Homo sapiens: one gene and its partner. The protein of the gene in region 2 purifies or fractionates together with the protein of the main gene of each other region. This does not show direct contact. Each region holds a gene or a part of one and is shown on either strand. Other genes may lie near its edges.

The links. Proteins that work in one complex are often made in the same cells at the same time.
Region 1: the proteins of TIMM44 (region 2) and COL1A2 purify together in Homo sapiens (affinity purification with mass spectrometry; 2 studies listed by BioGRID and IntAct, with this or other methods). This does not show direct contact.

The regions. Positions count from the first base shown.
Region 1 is NC_000007.14:94,404,895-94,411,914, reverse strand, and holds part of COL1A2 (collagen alpha-2(I) chain precursor), read right to left. Parts: intron 6,717-7,020; coding exon 6,663-6,716; intron 6,243-6,662; coding exon 6,189-6,242; intron 5,666-6,188; coding exon 5,612-5,665; intron 4,069-5,611; coding exon 4,024-4,068; intron 3,733-4,023; coding exon 3,679-3,732; intron 3,580-3,678; coding exon 3,535-3,579; intron 3,146-3,534; coding exon 3,092-3,145; intron 2,594-3,091; coding exon 2,495-2,593; intron 2,352-2,494; coding exon 2,307-2,351; intron 2,193-2,306; coding exon 2,094-2,192; intron 1,674-2,093; coding exon 1,620-1,673; intron 1,496-1,619; coding exon 1,388-1,495; intron 1,027-1,387; coding exon 973-1,026; intron 860-972; coding exon 761-859; intron 1-760. UniProt on the Homo sapiens protein: Type I collagen is a member of group I collagen (fibrillar forming collagen).
Region 2 is NC_000019.10:7,933,625-7,940,672, forward strand, and holds part of TIMM44 (mitochondrial import inner membrane translocase subunit TIM44), read right to left. Parts: intron 4,574-7,048; coding exon 4,403-4,573; intron 1,522-4,402; coding exon 1,441-1,521; intron 615-1,440; coding exon 465-614; intron 380-464; coding exon 240-379; intron 1-239. UniProt on the Homo sapiens protein: Essential component of the PAM complex, a complex required for the translocation of transit peptide-containing proteins from the inner membrane into the mitochondrial matrix in an ATP-dependent manner.

The DNA of each region.
Region 1 (7,020 bases), on a different chromosome or scaffold from region 2:
TGTGAAAAGAGTTCTGAAATTTTTCTTCTATTTTTTTGTGGCTTTCCTTTTATTGAAATTTAGTGCAACTCATCCTTTTATAGATATCTCAAGAAACTGTTAAGCAACATGTATATGGGCAAAATGTATCACGTTATTTACCTCATAATAGAAAAACTAATACTTTTAGTAAACAATTTCCAAAGTGGATTTCTTATTGCTATATTTGGTGTCCCTATTACTTGTTTATGGTACAATTACAGTTGATATTCACCCATAAGAGGCAATGGAGGCAAAAAAATTACTCTATTGCTATGGATTAGTGTGTCTATGGACCTAGAGGTTATTTCTCCATAGCTAGTGTGATGCTGAATACATTACAGCACTTTGTGATTGCTAGGAAAAAGACTTCACTTATGAATCTAATAAACCAAAAATGTATAGTCCTAATATATTTCATGAACACCTTATATAAAACTCACAAATTAAGATAAAAGATTCATGCTGATAGGAGGACCAATCTAATTTGGATATATTAAAATAGATCTATTCTTCCAAAAACCTCATAGCCATTGTATCAAGTAATAAATAGAAAATTTATGAACTAATTAAATGCATGAAAATATCTACTGAGCTTTGATAAAGTCAAAAATGCAACTGTCAGCAAGACTACTAACAAATTTACTTTTGATGTTTTTATTGTTATCTTCAATATTAACCAACCCTTTAAAGAAGGAAGTAATGCCAGGTGTGATTTGCTCAGAATCAGTTTGAAACTTACTCTGGGTCCCATGAGACCAGGCTCCCCAGGGCGACCAGCATCTCCATTAGGTCCTCGGACTCCAGCAGGGCCACTTGCACCACGACTACCAGGAGGGCCCTATTCAAAAAAAAAAAAAAAACAGATAGAGGAGGAGGATGCTAAAGCTAATGACACACCCACCACCAGAAGCAGCAAGCCCCTTTCTAGGAAGTAAGTGATAGACAGCTTACCATGACGCCAGCTCTGCCATCAGCTCCAGGAAGACCACGAGAACCAGGACTACCCTGCAAGAAAGTACATGAAATAGAGAGAATTAAAGAAATCTCTTGGCTTTGATAAGGTAGAGTTTGTAAAAAATAGCATGATCTCCTTACAGGGGAGATACAGACACAAACCAAGCCAAAACACTTCACCCAACCCCTAGAGGAATTCATAGATGAGCATCCTGCAAAAGTAGGTCAACATTGTTTCCAGGCCAATTTTATAACATATTAAATTGAGAGTCACTGATTTAATAAGGCAGATGGAAAGCAGATGCTTTTTTTGCCTAAGAAAACACAGTCAGTAATTTTGACCAATTCCCAGTGAAGGGGTATCATAATCTGCCTCTGGTGTGTTAGGGTGTTGGGAGCATTTGAAACCTACTCTCAGCCCAGGAGGTCCTGGAGGGCCGGCAGATCCAGCTTCCCCATTAGGGCCTCTCTTTCCTTCTTCACCACTGGGACCAGGAGGACCTTGGGGCCCAGCAGAGCCCTGTTTAATGAAAAGAACAAAAGAAGAGGGAGTAAAAAAATAATTTTAATACTATGTCCAGCTGGAGAAACTGGAATGAGAAAAACAATTAACTTTATAAAAGTGTGATGATAGAGCTACTTACGGGCTCACCCTTGTTACCGCTCTCTCCTTTGGAGCCAGCTGGACCAGGCTCACCCTAGGGTTCAATACAGAACAGTGGTCAAAGGACAAACATTTGTTGAAACTCTCTTGCAGACAAATCTCTTAGAATATTTGTGGGTCAAGGTAAAGAGAAGCTCAAGTTCTCTAGGAAATGTACCCTGTTCATATTTAAATTGAGTACAGGGGAATGGTATTATTGGTCGAAGGGACAAAACTGATATTGTAGAACTTTGCCTCATTTACCTTGAGGTAATGATTTAAGATAACAGGAAGGGCATGTCTGTGTGCATATAGCAGACGGGAGTGTACATATATATATAAGAAATATAAACTAAAAATGCTAAGGAAGAGAAAAATAGGAATAATAAAACTACAAGTGGAAGTCTAGATAGTGATGAAATGATGGCAGAGGTGGTATTTCAGGATGATGAGAACCACAGTCATGACCACTTACAACAAGTCCTCTGGCACCAGTAGCACCGGCAGCACCAACAGGGCCAGGAATACCGCGGGGTCCAGGGAGGCCGGGAGCCCCAGCAACGCCGGGAAGGCCCTGTGAAGGAAAATGCAGTGTGGTCCATTAGGGAGGTGATGGGCTGTAGAGGCAGCACACATTAAATGCCTTTAAAATCATAGCAGCACATTTTAGCTACGCAGGTATACTCACAGCAGCACCCTTGGCACCAGTAAGGCCGTTTGCTCCAGGATTACCCTATGAGGAAAAGGAAAGGAGAAGGATATCAGTTAATTGGAATATTTCGGTTCTTCTTTGACCCCATCTTCATTCTTCTTCTTCCCCATACTCCACCTTTGTTTTCTTTTACTCAATAAAGTTTAAAGACAGTGGCTACTTACAGGAGGTCCAACGGGGCCGGAGAGGCCTGGAAGACCCACTTCACCACGGGGACCGGCGGGACCAGCAGGACCAGCGTTACCAACAGCTCCAATTTCACCCTAAAAGAGGAAATTAAACCAAGGAATTAACCAGCAAATAATGAAACAGCATATCTGTTTTTAAGATGCCAAGTTTTATGAAATGTCTTCATAAAACTTCAAAATTGCAATTATTTTTCTTATCCGTTTTATTACAAGATTTGAGTTTGGTTTCCTATTTTCCTTGCTTGATTCTGCCATCTTGGCTACTGTTACTACCTTCCCTCTCCTTCTGTCTCTCTGTGGTTGACTCTGGTTCTCAGTCAGTCCTAACTAACTAGTCCTAGAGACAATTTCCATGTTGTCATCTATATCGATGGGCACAGTGCACAGTGCAGAGAAATGATCTATTTCAAATGTAGAGTGAGAAAACTGGTCATTCTATGTCCATTTTGAAGGGAAGGAATAATTAAGGTAACTGTTTCGTAATTATCTCTTTATCTGCAAACACAGTTCCAATCTTTCACATCACAGTAAAAAGTTTATCAAAGTAGTGACAATGGTCACCAGTGTTTTTACCTTGGGGCCAGGGGCACCTGGGAAGCCTGGAGGGCCAGCAGACCCAATGGGACCCTGAAATCAAAGCAGAAGGTGGTAAGAAATTTCCTCCAAGTAAATTAAGAAAACAATAACAATGGCAGAAGATTGAAGTTGCTTACAGTGGCATGACACTGTTTATATTAGTAAAGAAAAAAACTGACAACCAGTCTGTTGTCGTTAGGATCTCATCAAAGGCAAGACATTCATGGTATCCAGGGTGGGGATATTTTGCTTTATACATCAATCAAAAGTTCAGGTACTTATAAATGGCTTACACTACTTATAAATGGAGCCTTCAAAAGACCTCACAGAACATTTGGTAAAGTGTCTGAAATGATGCTATTTCGTAAGAGATTAATGAAGAAGACAGCACCCACCCCACATTCTCAACTCCTTTCAAACTCCCCAGTGTCAAAACTTACAGCAGGACCCACGGGACCCACACTTCCATCACTGCCACGGGCACCCTAAGAAGAAAATAAAGGGAAGATCAGGTGGAAACTTAAATGACAGCCATTAGAAGATTTTTTAAAAGGATGAAACTGAACAAAAATGGAAGCACTTACAGCTGGGCCAGGGGCACCAACACGTCCTCTCTCACCAGGAAGCCCACGGGCTCCCTAGAAGCAGAAATATTTTCAATAAAATCCAGAATGCTAATTTAAAAAAAGTCACAGGCATCATTTGCTTTGTTCAGTTTCCAACCTGTACAAGAATACACTAAAAATAAATAAGTTGCCTTCTAATTCCAACTAAACAGTAGTGGATTTCAATTAAGTATCAGAAGGCTATTAGAAAAACATCAAAGAATACAATGCTGAAGGATACAGTGATTAGCAAAAACATTAAAGAAGTTCCATCTCATAAAGAGTGTACACATTTAAATTTACAATGAAGTAGTCAATACTTACTGTTTGACCTGGAGTTCCATTTTCACCAGGGGCACCAGGTTCACCCTACATGGAGAAGGATTGAGTTTTTGTTCATTAAATATAACAATTATTTTTCCTGATAGTGCAATTTTACTCTATTTTTTTTACTTTGAACCATTCATATACTTCATAATATTTCTTACACATATAGATTGTTTTTCAATTATGCCAGACACACAGATTTTAAAATGTGCTAACATGAGTTTTTATTCAGATAGTACCACATATCCAGGTTCTAAGGAGATGTGGTTATTTGAGTGTACCTCCTCCCCAATTTCTCCCTTAGATTCAGGATATCAATTATATACTAGAAACAATATCATAAAAAGAGATGGCAAAGGATAAATTTGCTTTCAATGTAACCATATTTATCCTTTTTAAAGTTATTTTGAACACTCAGTGTTATCACTTTCATAAAATGTGCATGAAAAATTGAAGCTTCATGGTATTTTTTAGAGCCATCATATTTATTTCCAATCTATATTCTTATCCTGAGTAAAAACCAGGGTAGTAGTAGTAGTAGTAGTGGGATTTAATACTATGGCACATGTAAAAGAACTTTTTTTAAAGATAATCTGATTTAGATATAGGGGAAATATGGTTTAAGAGACCTCATAAGGACCCTTAATTTCCAGGATTCTATGTGAAGTCTATTCTTTGGGAATAAGCATTGAAGTGGCAAGGGGGGATCATTTCTAGCCTATGACTTTCTAACCTCTAGATGTGTGACTTTGGGCAAGTCAATTGCTCTCACGAAGCCTCAGTTTCCCACCTCTGCAAAATGAGGGGGTCTCCAAAGCTCCTTGCAGCTCTAACATTTTATGATACAGTGATTAGTAGTCTGAGCTGTTATATCGGGCTCTTGGGAGAATGAGTTTGACCTTATCCATTTGTGTGGCAGCTGGAAAGTTAGAATAGATTCTCCATATTCATGTTCATTTCTGGTCCCGCTAGTATTCGTTACTCATTAATTTGTAATTACGTTGGTATTCACTTTAATATCACATTATCTCCTTAATAGGAAAGAGAACATTTTATAGTTGAAAACGCTGTCAGAGAAGAGCCTAGCCAAGAGATAACACACTTCTGAGACTTTAATTACCTAATTAAAATTTTTTTGAGTGTGCACAGATAAATCACAGGAAAGAGGTTGAAAAGTGTATAGCGACATGAATGTACCTATCTAATTAGTGTGTGGCAAAGGAGAATTTACAGTTTAAAATAATACAGAGTGTCGTAATCTCTGATTATATGTTTATTTACTTTTATTTTGGCTGCAGAGATACACTGGAATTATAGAGGGAGGAAAGGAAATGGAACAAGAAACTATTAATATTATTTTTATCTCAATTGTTTAATAGATATTGAATTTTAATAAATATTAATAATTGACCTTTTTTCACAGACTCTCATAGTCCCCATCCTTGAGGGATTTGAAGTACAGGAAAGAAAAAAAATAAAAATACTTTTTGTAATATGGGTAGTCTTCAGTATAATATACTTTTTTGGAGGTCATGGGGAATTTCAATCAAGTGCTTAAAAACAGTGCTTCTAATTTAATATTTACCTTCACACCAGGAGCACCGGGCTGTCCCTTCAATCCATCCAGACCATTGTGTCCCTGAAAGGAAAGCCTTATTATAAAATGCTGTTCCATGATAGTGTTTGGTCAAATAAAAATTGTATTGTATATCTTTGCCATTAATCTCTCTTGGGTAAGTCTTGTCTGCTGCAGTAGAAAGAAGTCCAGTGTTCCAGGTCCCAGCAAACTCAGTCTATTGCCCTAGATAGGTCACTTAACTTTCTTGCCATTGAGAGAGAAGGATGGAGGACTAGGTGTTCTCTCACATCTTTTCCATCCTTAATAATTTTATGATTTTCAGACGGTTGTAAATACTCAATAAGTAATACATGTTCTATATAATTTTCTCTGTAGTGAGCCTGTTTTTTGGTAGCTATGAACAGACTGAAAAAATTGCACCCCACTTTACTTTCAAGAAATCTGACTCTTTAACTCTTTCTTCCCTTTGGCAAACTCCAGGGATTTGAAAGTGAGTATATGTCACCCAAGATTTTAAACATACTTGAGTTTTTTCCAAAAATTAATAGGCATTTTCTCTCTTCTGAGTAAAGAATGTGCTCACCCTAATGCCTTTGAAGCCAGGAAGTCCAGGAGTTCCAGGGAAACCACGAGCACCCTTAGAAAGAAATACAGAAGATGGTGAATAATGTTTTACCATAAATAAAAAGACAGTGACTTCTTCCCTCCAAAGTATTTATTCTCATCAAAGTTCAAGCTTTGAACCAAAGTCTAGTATACCTCTAAGCACAGAGTGACAAATTAACTTGCTCTAATGTGAGTAACTAATAATACGGTATTTGTAGAAAACACAATTTAGTTGCTTATGGTATGCTTGCTGTCATTTATATTCCATTATTTGCATGAATAAAATGTATATGCATTTTTTTTTAACTAGGCTTTTTTCTTTATTAGATGCCTTCGATTCATGTTATGAGTTTGGGTGACATCTATGTTGTCATTTAGATTGATGCTAGTTTTAGCAACTATCTTATAGGCCTATGATGTTTGTGCTATCTACCAATGTAAAAAGTCTCACCTGTGGTCCAACAACTCCTCTCTCACCAGGTCGTCCGGGTTTTCCAGGGTGACCCTAAACATGAAAACATTGTAGAGTCAACTTCTTCTTGGTAAACTATCAGACAAAATGGGGGAATCTTGGTTTTTACAAAAGGGGAGAAAGTTATCACATAAAAATATGGATCCAGATATATATTTAATCTTTCCCTTAATACAAGTAGGTTAGTTAATATTTCATTAAAATAATATTTCCCATACATTAAGAGTTCTGTCAGGCATATTCAGCTTTTGGCAGAATACTTAATTTGAATCTAGAAAATCTTGTTGAGGCAAGAGTATTTAAATAGCATTTTGAAAGTGCTTAAGAGTAAATACTT
Region 2 (7,048 bases):
CCTCCTGCGGCTGCAGGCAGGGGGCAGTACAGGACAGCAGGCAGCTGAGACCTCAAACCTAGGGGCTCTGAGGACCCCGCCCTCACCTCTCACCCTCAAATTCGAGGGAGCCGGGAACCTTGGGCAGAAGGCAAACTCAAGAAACGGACTCAGGAGGGAACCATTGGTGGGCTCCCGAAATGGACAGCAGTGAAAGCTGCCCAAAATGGGGGCAGCGAGGGCCACGGGCTGGTACCTACTCGTTTGGCTCAAACACTTTCTCCTCCTTGAACTTATCTCCCGCAAACTCCGTTCTCTTCCGGAGTCGCTGGGGCCTCCGGTAGGGCCCGGTCTGTCCCAGGACGCTGTCGTCAATTTCCTTCTTCACGGACTCCACCCCCTGCGAGGGAGGCACAGCGGGGCTGGGGTGGGTGTCTGGGTTCGGCCGCCCCAGGCTGCATGCCCTAGCCCAGGACTGGGCTCACCTGGGAGAGGGCTCTGAAGGCCGCTGTCCTGCCCAGCTTCTCCCCGCCTTTGGATACCGACTCGGCCGACTGCTTGGCCGTCTTGGCTGCTTCCTCCACGCCCTCCTTGATTTTCCGGCCGAGATCACTTTTACTGACTTCGTGAAGGCTCTACTGAGACAGACACAGAGAGGGGGCGTTGGCACCGGCCCTGGCGGCCGGGGGGCGGGGCAGGAGGAATGAATTCCTGCCGGAGAGAAGGGCGGATCTGGTTCCCCGAGGCCGGCAGAGGCCTTCTGTGCTCCTGTGGTACGCGGCACCCCCAGAGCCATGAGCACAACGGCACCCCCAGAGCCACGAGCACACCGCCACCCCCAGAGCCACGAGCACACCGGCACCCCCAGAGCCATGAGCACACCGGCACCCCCAGAGCCATGAGCACACCGCCACGGCTTCCGGGATGCTGGCCCTGGGCTCTGGGTGAGACGCTGGGTCTGCTGGCCCCTTTCCAAAATGGGCAGGAGTCCTCTGGAGACCCGGGAACTGCCTGGCAGCAAGGATTCCCAAGGAGGGGACCCCGGGGAAAGAACGGCGGTGAGGGCGCCCCATGCTGCGCAAAGCTGGACAGAACAGACAACCGAGGAGAGCCGCAGCACCCCAGGAATCCTGCCTCCCGCCTCTACCCTCGGGAGGGGGTGGAAGCGGCCCCTCTCCTCCTATTTTTAGGCAGGAAAAACATTTTCATGTTCTCCTCGAGTCCTGGCTAGCAGCACTTACTGCTGCCGACTCCCTGGGTCAACGGTCATGCAAGGTTGCCAGTCTGACCTCACCCTGCATGTGCCGGGAACTCCTGAAACCTTCCCGAGGGTGGCAGCACGCCCCATGCCACCCACTGCTGCCAAGCCACCCCCACCCAGGAGCCGACTCTTCCTCCAGCCTCCAGCGGCCAGGGGACTTTGATGGCCCCAGCGGCTCCAGGCGGGCGTGGAACTGTTACCTCCTTCACGGTGCCCGTCAGCTCCCCAAGCTTCTTCCGTAGCACCTCGCTCGTCCGCACGGTTTCTGACTCGATGGTTTTCTAGGTAAAGAGCGCTGTGTCCTTTTTTTTTTTTTTTTTTTTGAGACAATGTCTCCGTTGCCGAGGCTGGAGTACAGTGGCACGCTCTCGGCTCACTGCAACTTCCTCCTGCCAGATTCAAGCGATTTTCCTGCCCCAGCCTCCCGAGTAGCTGGGACTACAGGGCCCACCACCATGCCTGGCTAATTTTTGTATTTTCAGTAGAGACAGGGTTTTACCACGTTGGCCAGGCTGGTCTCAAACTTCTGACCTCAAGTGATCCACCCGCCTCGGCCTCCCAAAGTGCTGGGATTATAGGTGTGAGCCACTGTGCCTGGCCAACCGTTGTGTCTTTAAGTCTGTATGTTCTGACACGGCAGTGACATTTCTCTTACAGCCAAAGGTCCAAGAAGCATCTTCTCCGCAGCCCCTCCCTCCCCGCACCTGCCAGCATGTGCTGCCTCCAGGGCCCCCGGCTGCCCACATGGCTTGGATTGAGGGTCTCAGCAGCGGTGAGCTCCTTGCTCAGAAGGCCGGCAGACTCGGGTCCCCGCTTGGCAGCTACCTCCTGAGAACAGGAGGCCCAGCCTTCACCTTTCACCGGGTGGTAGGAGGTGGCCTTGCCTGTCATCACTGTGCCCCTCATCCAGCCTCCAGCCACCACAGCTTGGTCTTATGTCTCCCGCTCCATCCATCCCACTCCAAACTCAGCCTGCTATGTCTTCAGATGACCCCTGCATTAATGATAAAGAGGGGCTGGGCATGTGAGCTGTAGTCCCAGCTCTTTGGGAAGCTGAGATGGGAGGATCGCTTGAGCCCAGAGAGTTCGAGACCAGCACAGGCAACATGGCGAGACCCTGTCTCTAGAAATATAAAAAAATTAGCCAGGCGTGGTATCCCATGCCTTTAGTCACAGCTACTCAGGAGGCTGAGGTGGGAGAATCACCTGAACATGGGAAGGTCAAAACTGCAGTGAGCTGTGATCACACCACTGCACTCCAGCCAGGGTGACAGAGCAAGACCCTGTCTCAAAAAACCAAACTAGGCTGGGCACGGTGGCTCATGCCTGTAATCCCAGCACTCTGGGAGGCCAAGGCGGATGGATCACCTGAGGTCAGGAGTTCAACACCAGCCTGGCCAAAGTGATGAAACCCCGTCTCCACTAAAAATACAAAAATTAGCCTGGCGTGGTGGTGGGCGCCTATAATTCCAGCTATTTGGAAGGCTGAGGCAGGAGAATCGCTTGAACCCAGGGAGGCGGAGGTTGCAGTGAGCCGAGATCGCACCATTGCACTCCAGCCTGGCTGACAGAGCAAGACTCCATCTCAAAGGAGAAAAACAAAAAACGAACAAACAAAAAAACACAAATGAAACCAAACCAAACCAAAATGCAAGGGACCCGTGGCAGGTGCCTGCATCTCTGAGGCTCAGCTGCTCATTGGTAAAATGGGGACACTGTAACTGCCTCGCAGGGCCCTTACAAATAAAGGAATGCAGAGCCATTCCCAGAAGCCAGGGCTTGGCAGCTGCTCAAGAAGAGAAGTGACAATTAATAATGACAGGCTGGGAGCAGTGGCTCACACCTGTAATCCCAGCACTTTGGGAAGCTGAGACGGGCAGATCACTTGAGGCCAGGAGTTTGAGACCAGCCTGGCCAACATGGTGAAACCCCGTCTCTATAAAAAGATATATAGGGCTGGGCGCACTGGCTCACACCTGTAATCTCAGCACTTTGGAAGGCCAAGGCAGGTGGATCATTTGAGGTCAGGAGTTCAAGGCCAGCCTGGCCAACATGGTGAAACCCTGTCTTTACTAAAAATACAAAAATTAGCTGGGCAGTAGTGGTGTGTGTCTGTAATCCCAGCTACTCGGGAGGCTGAGGCAGGAGAATCGCTTGAGCCTAGGAGGCAGAGGTTGTGTTGAGCCAAAATCGTACCACTGCACTCCAGCCTGGGCAATGGAGTAAGACTCTGCTTCAAAAAACAACAACAACAACAACAACAAATCAGCTGGGTGTGGTGGCGGGCGCCTGTAATCCCAGCTATCCGGGAGGCTGAGGCAGGAGAATCAGGAGCTGGAGGTTGCAGTGAGCCAAGGTCACGCCACTGCACTCCAGCCTGGATGACAGAGCAAGACTCCATCTCATAAAATAAAATAAAATAAAATAAAATACCAGCACCATCACCCAGTTTCCACCAGGCTCCACTCAGAGGGCTACAGCTGGGAGCTCTCAGGAGCGCTGCATCCCATAGCTGGTGTGCATGCGTTGCCTGGGGGCCTGTGAAGATGCGGGCGCTGGCCTGGCAGTTTGGGAGGGTGTGAGCCTCTGCACTGCTCATCCACTCCCAGGAGGAGCCACTGCTGCTGGTCTGGGGACCACGCTTCAAGCTGCACAGAACGCTGCATGGTCTCATGGCAGAACCCAGAGGCCTGGAGACCCGCACCTGTCCCCTGGCTCCCTCTCATTAGTGCATCAGAGCAGTGACCTCACTTCCTCACGAGCCACCCTGCCCCCAACCGTCCAGCCCTGAGCTCCTCTGGCTGTCCCTGGCCTGGAGAAACCCTGGCCCTGGAAACAAACATGTCAACCAAGAAAGGTAAGAAGCAAAGGGGCCCAACGCGGTGGCTCACGCCTGTAATCCCAGCACTTTGGAAGGCTGAGGCGGGCGGATCACTTGAGGTCAGGAGTTCGAGACCAGCCTGGCCAACATGGTGAAACCTCTTCACTACTAAAAATACAAAAATTAGCTGGGCGTGGTGGTGCGCGCCTGTAAGCCCAGCTACTCAGGAGGCTGAGGCAGGGGAATCACTTGAACCTGGGAGGTGGAGGTTGCAGTGAGCCGAGATCGCACCACTACTCTCCAGCCTGGGTGAGGGAAAAAAAAGCAGCAAAGAAACTCACGTATTTCCTTCTGGCCTCCTGGAGCACGTCTGATTCTTCTAGCCTTCTGGCCTCGTCACGGAATTTTTTTATACTTTCTTTCATTTCTTTGTTTTTGGCTAATTCTTGTTTGACATTATCTAGCAAGCCGGACAGAAAGCCTTTTCTGTTTCCAGAAGAATATGATTTGGACTAGAAAGAATGTACAAGAAAAAAAATTTAAAGAACATAGTAGAACATAGAATGAAATGCCCCACAGAGGGACTCAGGGATTTTTTTAAATGTTCTCTTTTCGGTTGATATACATTTAATGATGATTAGCTATCTCTTTTATAATAATCATAAAAAACAAAGAAACAGCAGGTGATAAAAGTGTGGTATATCCAGACAACAGAATATTATTCAGTGCTGAAAAAAAAATGAGCTCTCAGCCACTTTAGGAGGCTGAGGAGGGAGGATTGCTTGAGGTCATGAGTTTTAAGACCAACCTGGGCAACACAGCACCCTATTTAAAAAACAGGCTGGGCGCGGTGGTTCACGCCTGTAATCCCAGTACTTTGGGAGGCTGAGGCGGGCAGATCACCTGAGGTCAGGAGTTCGAGACCAGCCTGGCCAAAATGGTGAAACCTCATCTCTACTAAAAATGCAAAAGTTAGCTGCGCATGGTGGTGTGTGCCTTTAGTCCCAGCTCCTCAGAAGGCTGAGGCACAAGAATTGCTTGAACCCAGGAGGAAGAGGCTGCAGTGAGCCAAGATTATGCCACAGCACTCCAGTCTGGGTGACAGAGCGAGACTCCATCTCAAATAAAATAAAATAAAATAATTTAAAAAACAAGCAAGAAATATGCTCTCAAGCTGTGAAAAGACACAGAGGAACCTTAAATGTATATTGCACTAAGTGAAAGAAGCCAATCTGAAAAGGCTACATACTGTCTGATTCCAACTATAGACCGTTCTGGAAAAGGCAAAACTAAGGGGACAGTAAAAGATCAGTGGTTGCCAGGGGTTTGGTAGGAAGAGGGTGAGATGAGTAGGGGGGAACACAGAAAAATGTTAGGGCAGTGAAACTACTCTTATGATACTGTAATCACAGAGAATGTACACCACCAAGAGGGAACCGGAAGGTAAACCATGCATTTATTAATAATAATGTATCAACATCCTGTCAATTGTGACAGATGCTCCACACTAATGCAGGACGTGAAGAATAGAAAACTGTGTGCCAGATGGGAGAGGAGGGGCATGGCAACTCTTTGGACATTCTGTTGGATTTTTCTGTAAACCTAAAACTGCTCAAAAGATAAAGCCTTGTGAAAGCAAAACAAGGCCGGGCGCAGTGGCTCCTGCCTGTAATCTCAGCACTTTGGGAGGCCAAGGTGGGTGGATCACTTGAGGTCAGGAGTTCCAGACCAGCCTGACCAACATAGTGAAACCCCCGTCTCTACTAAAAATACAAAAATTAGCTGGGCGTGGTGGTGGGTGCCTGTAATGCCAGCTACTCAGGAGGCTGAGGCAGGAGAATCACTTGAACCCAGGAGCCGGAGGTTGCAGTGAGCCAAGATTGTGCCACTGCACTCCAGCCTGGGTGATGGAATGAGACTCCATCTCAAAAAAAAAAAAAAAAAAGCAGGCTGGACACAGTGGCTCATATCTGTAATCCTAGCACTTTGGGAGACCGAGGTGGGCGGATCACTTGAGGCCAGGAGTCCGAGACAAGCCTGGCCAACATGGTGAAACCTTGTCTCTACTAAAAATACAAAAATTAGCCAGGTGTGGCGGCGCCTGCCTGTAGTCCCAGCTACTGAGGCAGAGGCAGGAGAACTGCTTGAACTCGGGAGGTGGAGGTTGCAGTGAGCGGTATCTCGCCCCTGCACTCCAGCCTGGGCGACAGAGTGAGACTCTGTTTCAAAAAAACAACAGAGAAACAGTTTAATGAATGATCATACAATAATCCAATCAGGCGGAAGGGGCCGCCTGTGGTCAACTTTTCCACAGCTGTGTTGGGTATACCAGCTCCAGGTGGGATCCCCCTCCCTGGCTCCTGTCAAGCTACAAGAGAAAGCTGCATCCAGCCTGGTGCTCAGGCCCCGTGGAGTCACACACCTGTGGTCCCAGCTACTCAGAAGGCTGAGGTGGGAGGATCGCTTAAGCCCAGGAGTTCAAGGCTGCAGTGAGCCGTGATAGTGCCACTGCACCCCAGCCTGGGCCACAGAGTGAGACCCTATCTTAAAAAAAAAAAAAAGCCCAGTGCTGCTCCCCAGGACAGGTGGCCAGGCCTCCTGTCAGCAGGCTGCAGTCCCATTCAGATGCCACCCTGGCCAGCCTTTCTCCAGGGGAAACCCAGGTTCTAAGTAAAATCATCCAGGACCACACAACCTTATCGCAGCCCTACCAGAGACTCTTGGGCTACAAACCATGGGAGTGAGTGTGTGGCGGGGGACTAGACAAGAAAGGGAAAGAGTCACAGGTCCTGTCCCACACCCACGATGGCCCCAGGACAGGACTGGAGAGGTAGGTAGCTGCCTCCAAGGAGGCAGCTGAGCTGAGGCTCTGGGCGCAGAGAGAGAGGGAGACAGAATGTACGCGCTGCCCGAATGTACAGGTCTGGGGAAGGGAGTCAGGTTTTGGGCTTCTGTCCTCACGATGCTGAGACACCAACAGAAGCACA